Homo sapiens: one gene and its partner. The protein of the gene in region 2 interacts with the protein of the main gene of each other region in a pairwise test. Each region holds a gene or a part of one and is shown on either strand. Other genes may lie near its edges. The genes, in order: GIGYF2 and GRB14.

Region 1 (3,924 bases), about 68 Mb from region 2:
GTGAAAAACACTTTGGAGTAGGTTTGCCTCAAAATCATGAGAAGATGGAAATTACAAGGTCAGTGTGTGAATGCAACTCCTTGGCTAAAAGGGAGGCATAGTGATGGTAGTGATGAGGTAGTGTTTTAACTAATTGCCTTTCTTCCTCTTGTTTTTCTATTGTGTTTTTGAAATGACATTTCCAAATTATGTCTTTGATGTCATATCAGCTCATTTGTTTTCATGACTCTGCATTTTAATACTCCATATTGTCTCTTCTCTTTTTGTTGACCTTCACATTGGAAGATGACACTGTTGATAGTGATTGCTATCTGGGAGAACCTTTTTGGGTAAAAAGATTACTACTGTCGCTTTTATGATTGCCCTTCTGTAGGATCTTTGACTTGTGCCATTTTCAAATTTTGACTTTGTTTGCAGTTCTCCATTAGCTCCTGCTGATTAAATTTCCCATACTTTCTGTTTTATTCTATTTCTTATAGATTATAGTGGGACCAGTCTCATTAGGTTGAATCTACAGCCTATGTTGGTGTTAACCCAGGTCTCTTAGAGGCAAGTTAAATGTCCATTTTCCTTCAGTTTAAATTACCATGGCATATTGTTTGGTCATTGTTGTAACAGTCTGAACTCAAGCTTTTTTTCACTGCTTGATTCCCACTAGGGTTTTGTGGTGATAAAGTCCTATGGTTTTTGCATGGGAGAGTATTTAAGAATAAAAGGAAAAATATATAAAATGAAAAAGAAATAGAAGTTTAAAATAAGATAAAAAAGTCCTAGAGTTTCCATTCATTTTTAATACTTTGAAAAATTACATCTCTTTAAAACTAGAGATTTTTATTTCATGTATAAACTTGCTTATAGTTAGCATTGCAGTGTTTCTTGACCAAATATTGTTTTTACATTTTATTCATGCTCTCAGATGAATGAGAAATATACTAAATTAATTATGTAGGAATGTAAAGTGATACCTTTATTGAATTGCCTATAGTTTTGTGTGAGGTTGAAAGCAGAAAGAGGTTTGAAAAACAAAGAATGTTCTCTTAATTGACCAAACTTCATTTTATAAAGGTATTTCAAAGTATTACATACTTCCCTACTTTAAGTAAATAAGGAACACAATTTTATATTTTCTTGTTAACTATGGGGTTTCATTAAGCTTAATTATTATTATTATTTGAGATGGAATCTCACTGTGTTGCTCAGGCTACAGTGCAGCGGCCTGATCTTGGCTCACTACAGCCTGTGATAGAGCAAGACCCTGTCTCCTGGGGGTTTGGGGTTGCAGTGAGCCGTGATTGCACCGCTGCGCTCCAGCCTAGGTGATAGAGCAAGACTTTCTCCAAAAAAGACAGGGTCTTGCTCTGTCACCTAGGCTGGAGGGCAGCGGTGCAATCACCACTGACTGTAACCTCAATCTCCCAGGCTCAAGCCATCCTCCCACCTCAGCCTCCTAAGTAACTGGGATTATAGGTCCATGCCACCACATCTGGCCAATATTTTTTGTAGAGATGGGGTCTCACTATGTTGCCTAGGCTGGTCTTAAACCTCTGGTCTCAAGTGATACTCCCGCTTCAGCTTCCCAAAGTGTTGAGATTATAGGCATGAGCCACTGTGCCCCACCAAGAATGCAATTTGAGAAAGTCACATCCACTTCTGATTTAATTTTGCAAAAAAAGTAGCCATGTTATAATGTCCAAAGGTCATCCAACTTTACCCACTGAACTGTGTAATTTTTTAAGGGCAGGAGGAAAGGGAAGAAGAAATGGATAATAAACTCTTCTTTGGCTGGGTGCAGTAGTTTACACCTATAATCCCGGCACTTTGGGAGGCTGAGGTAGGAGGATCACTTGAGCCATGAGACCAGCCGGGGCAACAGAGAGAGACCCCCATCTCTAAAAAAGATTTTTAAAAAATTAGCTGAGTATGGTGGTGCACGCCTGTAGTCACAGCTACTCAGGAGGCTGAGCCCAGGAGGTCAAGGCTACAGTGAGCTCTGATTGTACCACTACACTCCAGCTGAGGGAACAAAGCAAGATCCCATTTTGAAAATAACTGGCCGGGTGCAGTGGCTCATGCCTGTAATCCCAGCACTCTGGGAGGCTGAGGTGGGTGGATCACTTGAAGTCAGGAATTTGAGACCAGCCTGGCCAACATGGCAAAACCCTGTGTCTACTAAAAATACAAAAATTAGCTGGGCATGGTGGTGCACACTTGTAATCCTAGCTTCTCGGGAGGCTGAGGCAGGAGACTTGCTTGAACCTGGGAGGCGGAGGTTGCCTTGAGCCCAGATCGTGCCACTGCACTCCAGCCTGGGCAACAGAACGAGACTCTGTCTCCAAAAAAAGAAAAAAAACTCTATCTGTCTCTATCTAGTTGCTTTCCTGTAGTTAATGAAATTGTCAACTTTAATTGTTAATTATTGTTCTTTGACTTGTTAGTAGCAGTAAAGCATCATTTGATTTTAGCCAAGAAACTATTTGAAGATACTATACTTCAATTCACTCTTGTCACTTGGAATATCACCAACTTATGGATTTTTAAGATATTGCCCCAACAGAGCATTAAAGGCAGGTTGTGATTTTGCACACTTGGAGCTTTGCTCCCTGGACATTTTGGCAATGATCATATTTCTGAGGGCTCAGTGATTATTTGCATAGGATGCATATTGCTGTGATGCGGCTTTTGTTTTTCTGTTAGATATATATTTTTTGAGATAAGGTCTCACTCTGTCACCCAGGCTGGAGTGCAGTGGTACAGTTGCAGCTCACTGCAGCTTTGACCTCCCTGGGCTCAGGTGATCCTCCTACCTCAGCTTCCCGAGTAGCTGGGACTACAGGCATGTGCCACCATGCCTGGCTAATTTTTGTAGAGGTGGGGTTTTGCCATGTTGCCCAGGCTGGTCTTGAATTCGTGGGCTCAATCGATCACCTTCCTTGGCCTTCCAAAGTGTTAGGATTACAGGCATGACCCACTGTGCCTGGCAGTAGGTTTTAAAAGTTAATACCAAGTCCCTATAATGGGGTTTTGAATGAAAACCCCAAATAATGACTTCCCTGAAACCCCATGGTGGTCTTCATTTGACAGCTTCATAAGAATCACTTAGGACTTTTGTTAAAAAATATAGTTTTCAGTCCCACTGTAGAACTACTGAGACTTTCTAGATGTTAGGGAACCTAGTTTATAAATACACCAGGTGATCTACTCTTTTAACCAGGTTTGGAAGCCATTTTCTGCAAAGTATATTTATGATGAAAGATTGTACTTTTAAAGTTTCCTAAGAGGTTGCTGGGTGATTTATATTAATATTTTTATTATTTACAGCGTTAAAAGGATCTGAACAAAGTCTGCTCAAATCTCCTGCTGTGAACCAGCAGAATTTTTGAACAGGTAAGTGTGGAAGGGAAGCACAAAGCCTGAGGGCTTTTGCAAATAGGTAATTTCTGCTTTTAGGTTTTAGTTATTTTTGCCCTATTATTTCTCCTGAGGTTTTGGGTAGTGAGAAGAAACTTCTTCCCTGGTGCCTGTCAGATCCTTTATGAACAGTAAGAGTAACATACCCTTTCTGCATTGACCCTGGTGTGAATTTGTGTCTTAAACTGTCATAATAATTTTTTGTTGGCAAGAAACAAGGAGGAATGCTTTGGAGGCAGGAGTACTGTAAAGAACCAAAGAGCAGTTGACTTCATGAGGGACATGAACCAGAAACTGGGAAGCTTTCAGGAGCCATAGTACTTGTAGATAGCACTTTTTTACCAGCTGGCCAGTGTCCTCTCTTGTCTCTTTTTGTCCTGCTTTAATTGTATTTGTGCAGTCTGGCCTTTTCTGCTTTAACAAACACAAACTCATGGTAGCAAATGGCCACTTAATTCTTGGAGCCACATATGAACTTAGGCTCTAGTGCCAGTAGCCAATTGATGCTAGCACAGT
Region 2 (3,924 bases):
TCCTTCAAATGGGATGATACTGGTTGTCACCTAGCCAAACTTCCTGAAAAACCATTTTATGTGCAGCCTCACTAAGAATTAGTAGATGTGATCTCAAAGTATGGGCTGGATAATCCAGGGTATACCCAGACCTATTTTTTTTCTTAAAAAGAAAGAAAGTCATGCCATTAAAATCATGGACCCCTTTTTTAGGGCCTTCTCTGTTCATCTCCTAAGAAGGAAGAGCTAGAAAAGGGGAGAAGTGTTGGAGAAATATAACCAATTCTGAATGTTATCAACATTGCTTTTCTATGTGAAAGAAATTGATCTGAAAATGACCTTTTGAGTTTGTCAGACTCTGCTTTACTTCCATTTTTTTGTCCACCAATGGTAAACTATTAATTTTCTATCTACCACCTGCCATTCAGTAGAAGACATTTGCTATAGTCCTGTGTTTTCCGTTAATCTAGTTAATGTAGCAAATGAAAACGTTCCTTATTTGTAGTGTCGTCTTCTTATGTATGTCAAGTAAATAGGGAACACAGGATCTTGTTTTATTTCCTGGCCTGCTATACTAGAGGGAGAAAAATAGGACAGCTGATTATTTTTTTCTTAATATAATGGTATTTTTATGTTGCCAGGGAGTTGAGATTACAGAACCTACCTTGGCATGTAAACGGAGAGATATTATAAGGATAAAGCTATTATGATTGAGGAAGCTTACTCTGTGGTTTGGGCAGGTGGATGCTTTTCATTAATGTCAGCAAAGCACAAGTATATCTGACTGGTCTACAGACCTGCACAGAAGATCACGGGGTGAGAAGGGCAAACTAAGGTGTGACAGCAAATAGAGATTACAGAGACAGCATCTGTGTGGAAAGAGCAGCTGTCAGTTATAAAGGCTCCTGTAACAAATGAAAGATTGCATGCCAGATCTTTAGAAATATAGATGAACCATAATAAGATTGTAGGCCACTACAGCATAGTTTGAAGAGAAAATTACAAATGCTAATAAAGTGGGATATGTTGAAGCAGTGATAAAGGAGTCCTATAGTTATCTGTGGATAAGGTTTTGTTTGAAGCCTACATTTGACTATAGTCTATGCAACCAAGCCAGGTATAGCTGAATCTACATAAAGAGAGATAAAATGCTTTTAAGCCAGGGGGCCCCAGATGCAGGCTGGCTAGTAGTTTACTATTATAACACCACTTTGGGTTTTGCTCTTCTATTAATTAGTAGAAAATAACTGTTATTTTCCATGGGTGTTTTAAAATTTTTCTTTTGGAGAATTTTAATTCCTTCTTGATGTTGTATGAACTTATGAACTGAGTGGGATTCTTGACTAGAGATTTTGACAATGGTCTTTCTTAGGATTCATGACTTGTTGTGGGGTGGCATATTTGTTAAAAGATGGTTGTAAAGTAGAGCCCCAAACAAACAAAAAAGAAAAAGAAGATCGGGTTTTGCATATTTTACTTTCAACTCAAAGAATATAAATACAAGAAGTAGTTAGCAAAAACAATGACTTTATCATTTGTTTAAACTAAGTTTCTTTAAAGTTGCCTTCTATCAGTTCTTATTCAGGCTTATTTTTGCAGCCCTCATGTGGCCAAGTGTATTCTCACAAGATGAAAATGTATTCATATGTTAAATCATGGAAATTTTAAGGTTATGGAATTATCAGGATTATTCTTTCACTAAATTTTATTTTCTAAGTAAGATGAAAGTTGATGTGATAAACTTTTAAAATACATATTCTAGTTTGCTCCATTATAAAACTCATTAAAAATAATGAGTATTATTTCTCAAGAGATATATGTCAATCTAAGTTATAACTTTTGGGTATCTTGAATCTTAAAAACTAGTTGCTTCATAAGTAGATGGATTTGACATTTAATTGATGACTGACGGATCTCAAAGCTTAATGGAGACATCAATTCAGAAACAATGTATCTTTTTAACCAGAGGAAGAGCTATTCCTTTCTAAATGGAAGTTTTCCCATTTTACTAGAGAACGTGAAAAGATAAGTTTGTTTTAGAAGAAAGACATACTTTAAAAGCTTTTAATCTGTTTATTCAACTCTTCAATTACCTTAACAAATTACTATTTAGCTTTTTTAACAAAAATATTTTTAGCACCTTTATATCTTGAATATGTATTTTCACTTTAAATATTCTGCTAGCCCCTTCAGGCACCACCTTCTAGAATGGAAATGTACTGCCAGAAAAACACTGAGAGAAAAACACTGAAATTGAAAAACACTTTCAATTTATTTGAAAGATAACTTTCAAAGAAATTTTCATAACTCAAATGTGTTTCTTTTTTCCAGAGAAGTATATCAGAGAATTCCCTGGTAGCAATGGACTTCTCAGGCCAGAAAAGCAGAGTTATAGAAAATCCCACTGAAGCCCTTTCAGTTGCGGTTGAAGAAGGACTCGCTTGGAGGGTACAAGTAGCTTCACATGCTTCAAAATATTTATGATTTCAGTTTGTTTCACCTAAAAACTTGAGATTTGTTTTCTCCTTCCTTGCTCAGAAAAAAGGATGTTTACGCCTGGGCACTCACGGTAGCCCCACTGCCTCTTCACAGAGCTCTGCCACAAACATGGGTATGTCTGTTCATAGTCATTGCCACTGAGTAGACGGATAGACATGGAAAGGACATGTAATGAAATTGCAGTCATCTCAAACAAAGCTTTGCATTCATCCATCCTATTTCTTTAGCTATCCACCGGTCCCAGCCATGGTTTCACCACAAAATTTCTAGAGATGAGGCTCAGCGATTGATTATTCAGCAAGGACTTGTGGATGGGTAAGTTTGGTATTTTTAATTTTGAGTACTTGTGAATTGGATTTCTCCTATAAGCAGAAATTATTTATTCCATAGCCACAAAGAGTTCTTGATTTGGGCTTATCATAAAACAGAAGTGACATTGTTCTATAAATGAGGTCATCACTGTATTCTAACAGTATCTATATTATACCTGGTACATAGTGTGTGTCTGGTATTTGTATATAAATGGACAAATAACGGAATAGAGTATCTTGTTCTTAACCAGTGATCACTAATATTACCCATTATGTCCTGATTCTAGCATCTCAGATATCAATTGATGGGGGAAAATGAACTTCTTTTTAAGTGTCAATATTTTGATTTGAACATATGATTTCGAAGTATGGTTTATATTATGACATTATGTCAAATGTATTTTTTTAGGTATGATGCAACATGTATTAAGTAAAAAGCTGTTTCTTAAGTGTTTTGAACACTTATTTTTTTGTGTGTTTACATCCCTATTGTCCTTTCTCTAAATTTTAACATCTTAAAGTAATATAGATCCGTGAAAAGAGTACCTTTCAACTGTTTCTCATGTTGTCTTTTAGTGGGGTACCATGGAATACAAAAGAGAAATATAAAATGTATTATGAAAGATTTATAATGTGAAGAATTTTATTTTTCTCAAATTACTCAGTGTTTCAGATACTTTCTATAATACTGGCTGAATTCCCTTTCCAAATGCAGTACAAATGAGGGAGGTTGTATTGTGGTTTAGATGAGTAATGAAATCATTATCAATTTAAACAAGTGGTGATGGGATCTTTTATCTTCAAAAGTTGGCTAATCATGTCATTATCATGACAAGATTTCAAGGTGATTTAATACTGAAATTTGGATAACAATGCTTCTTCACATGGAAGATTATTAATAGGAAGTCAGCATTTCCCCAGACTGTAAATAAGATATTTTAATACGTTTCTTTGCATGGAATGCAGTCTTTTTGGAAATAAATTTGAACAATCAGTAGAATTACAATCTGATGAAACCAAGAAAATAAATGAGTCACAAAGAATTATTAAAATGTTTTGAAAGATTGTAATTTTCTTTATTTCTGAGCCCAGTATTTATAAAGTGAATGAAATGATCGTATAAAAAAAGATACTA

Evidence for each region.
Region 1: the proteins of GRB14 (region 2) and GIGYF2 interact in a two-hybrid assay, tested with the Homo sapiens proteins (one study listed by BioGRID).

The regions. Positions count from the first base shown.
Region 1 is NC_000002.12:232,700,106-232,704,029, forward strand, and holds part of GIGYF2 (GRB10-interacting GYF protein 2), read left to right. Parts: intron 1-479; exon of another isoform or gene 480-549; intron 550-3,318; 5' UTR 3,319-3,384; intron 3,385-3,924. UniProt on the Homo sapiens protein: Key component of the 4EHP-GYF2 complex, a multiprotein complex that acts as a repressor of translation initiation. In the 4EHP-GYF2 complex, acts as a factor that bridges EIF4E2 to ZFP36/TTP, linking translation repression with mRNA decay.
Region 2 is NC_000002.12:164,495,877-164,499,800, reverse strand, and holds part of GRB14 (growth factor receptor-bound protein 14), read left to right. Parts: intron 1-2,310; coding exon 2,311-2,427; intron 2,428-2,517; coding exon 2,518-2,590; intron 2,591-2,705; coding exon 2,706-2,793; intron 2,794-3,924. UniProt on the Homo sapiens protein: Adapter protein which modulates coupling of cell surface receptor kinases with specific signaling pathways. Binds to, and suppresses signals from, the activated insulin receptor (INSR). Potent inhibitor of insulin-stimulated MAPK3 phosphorylation.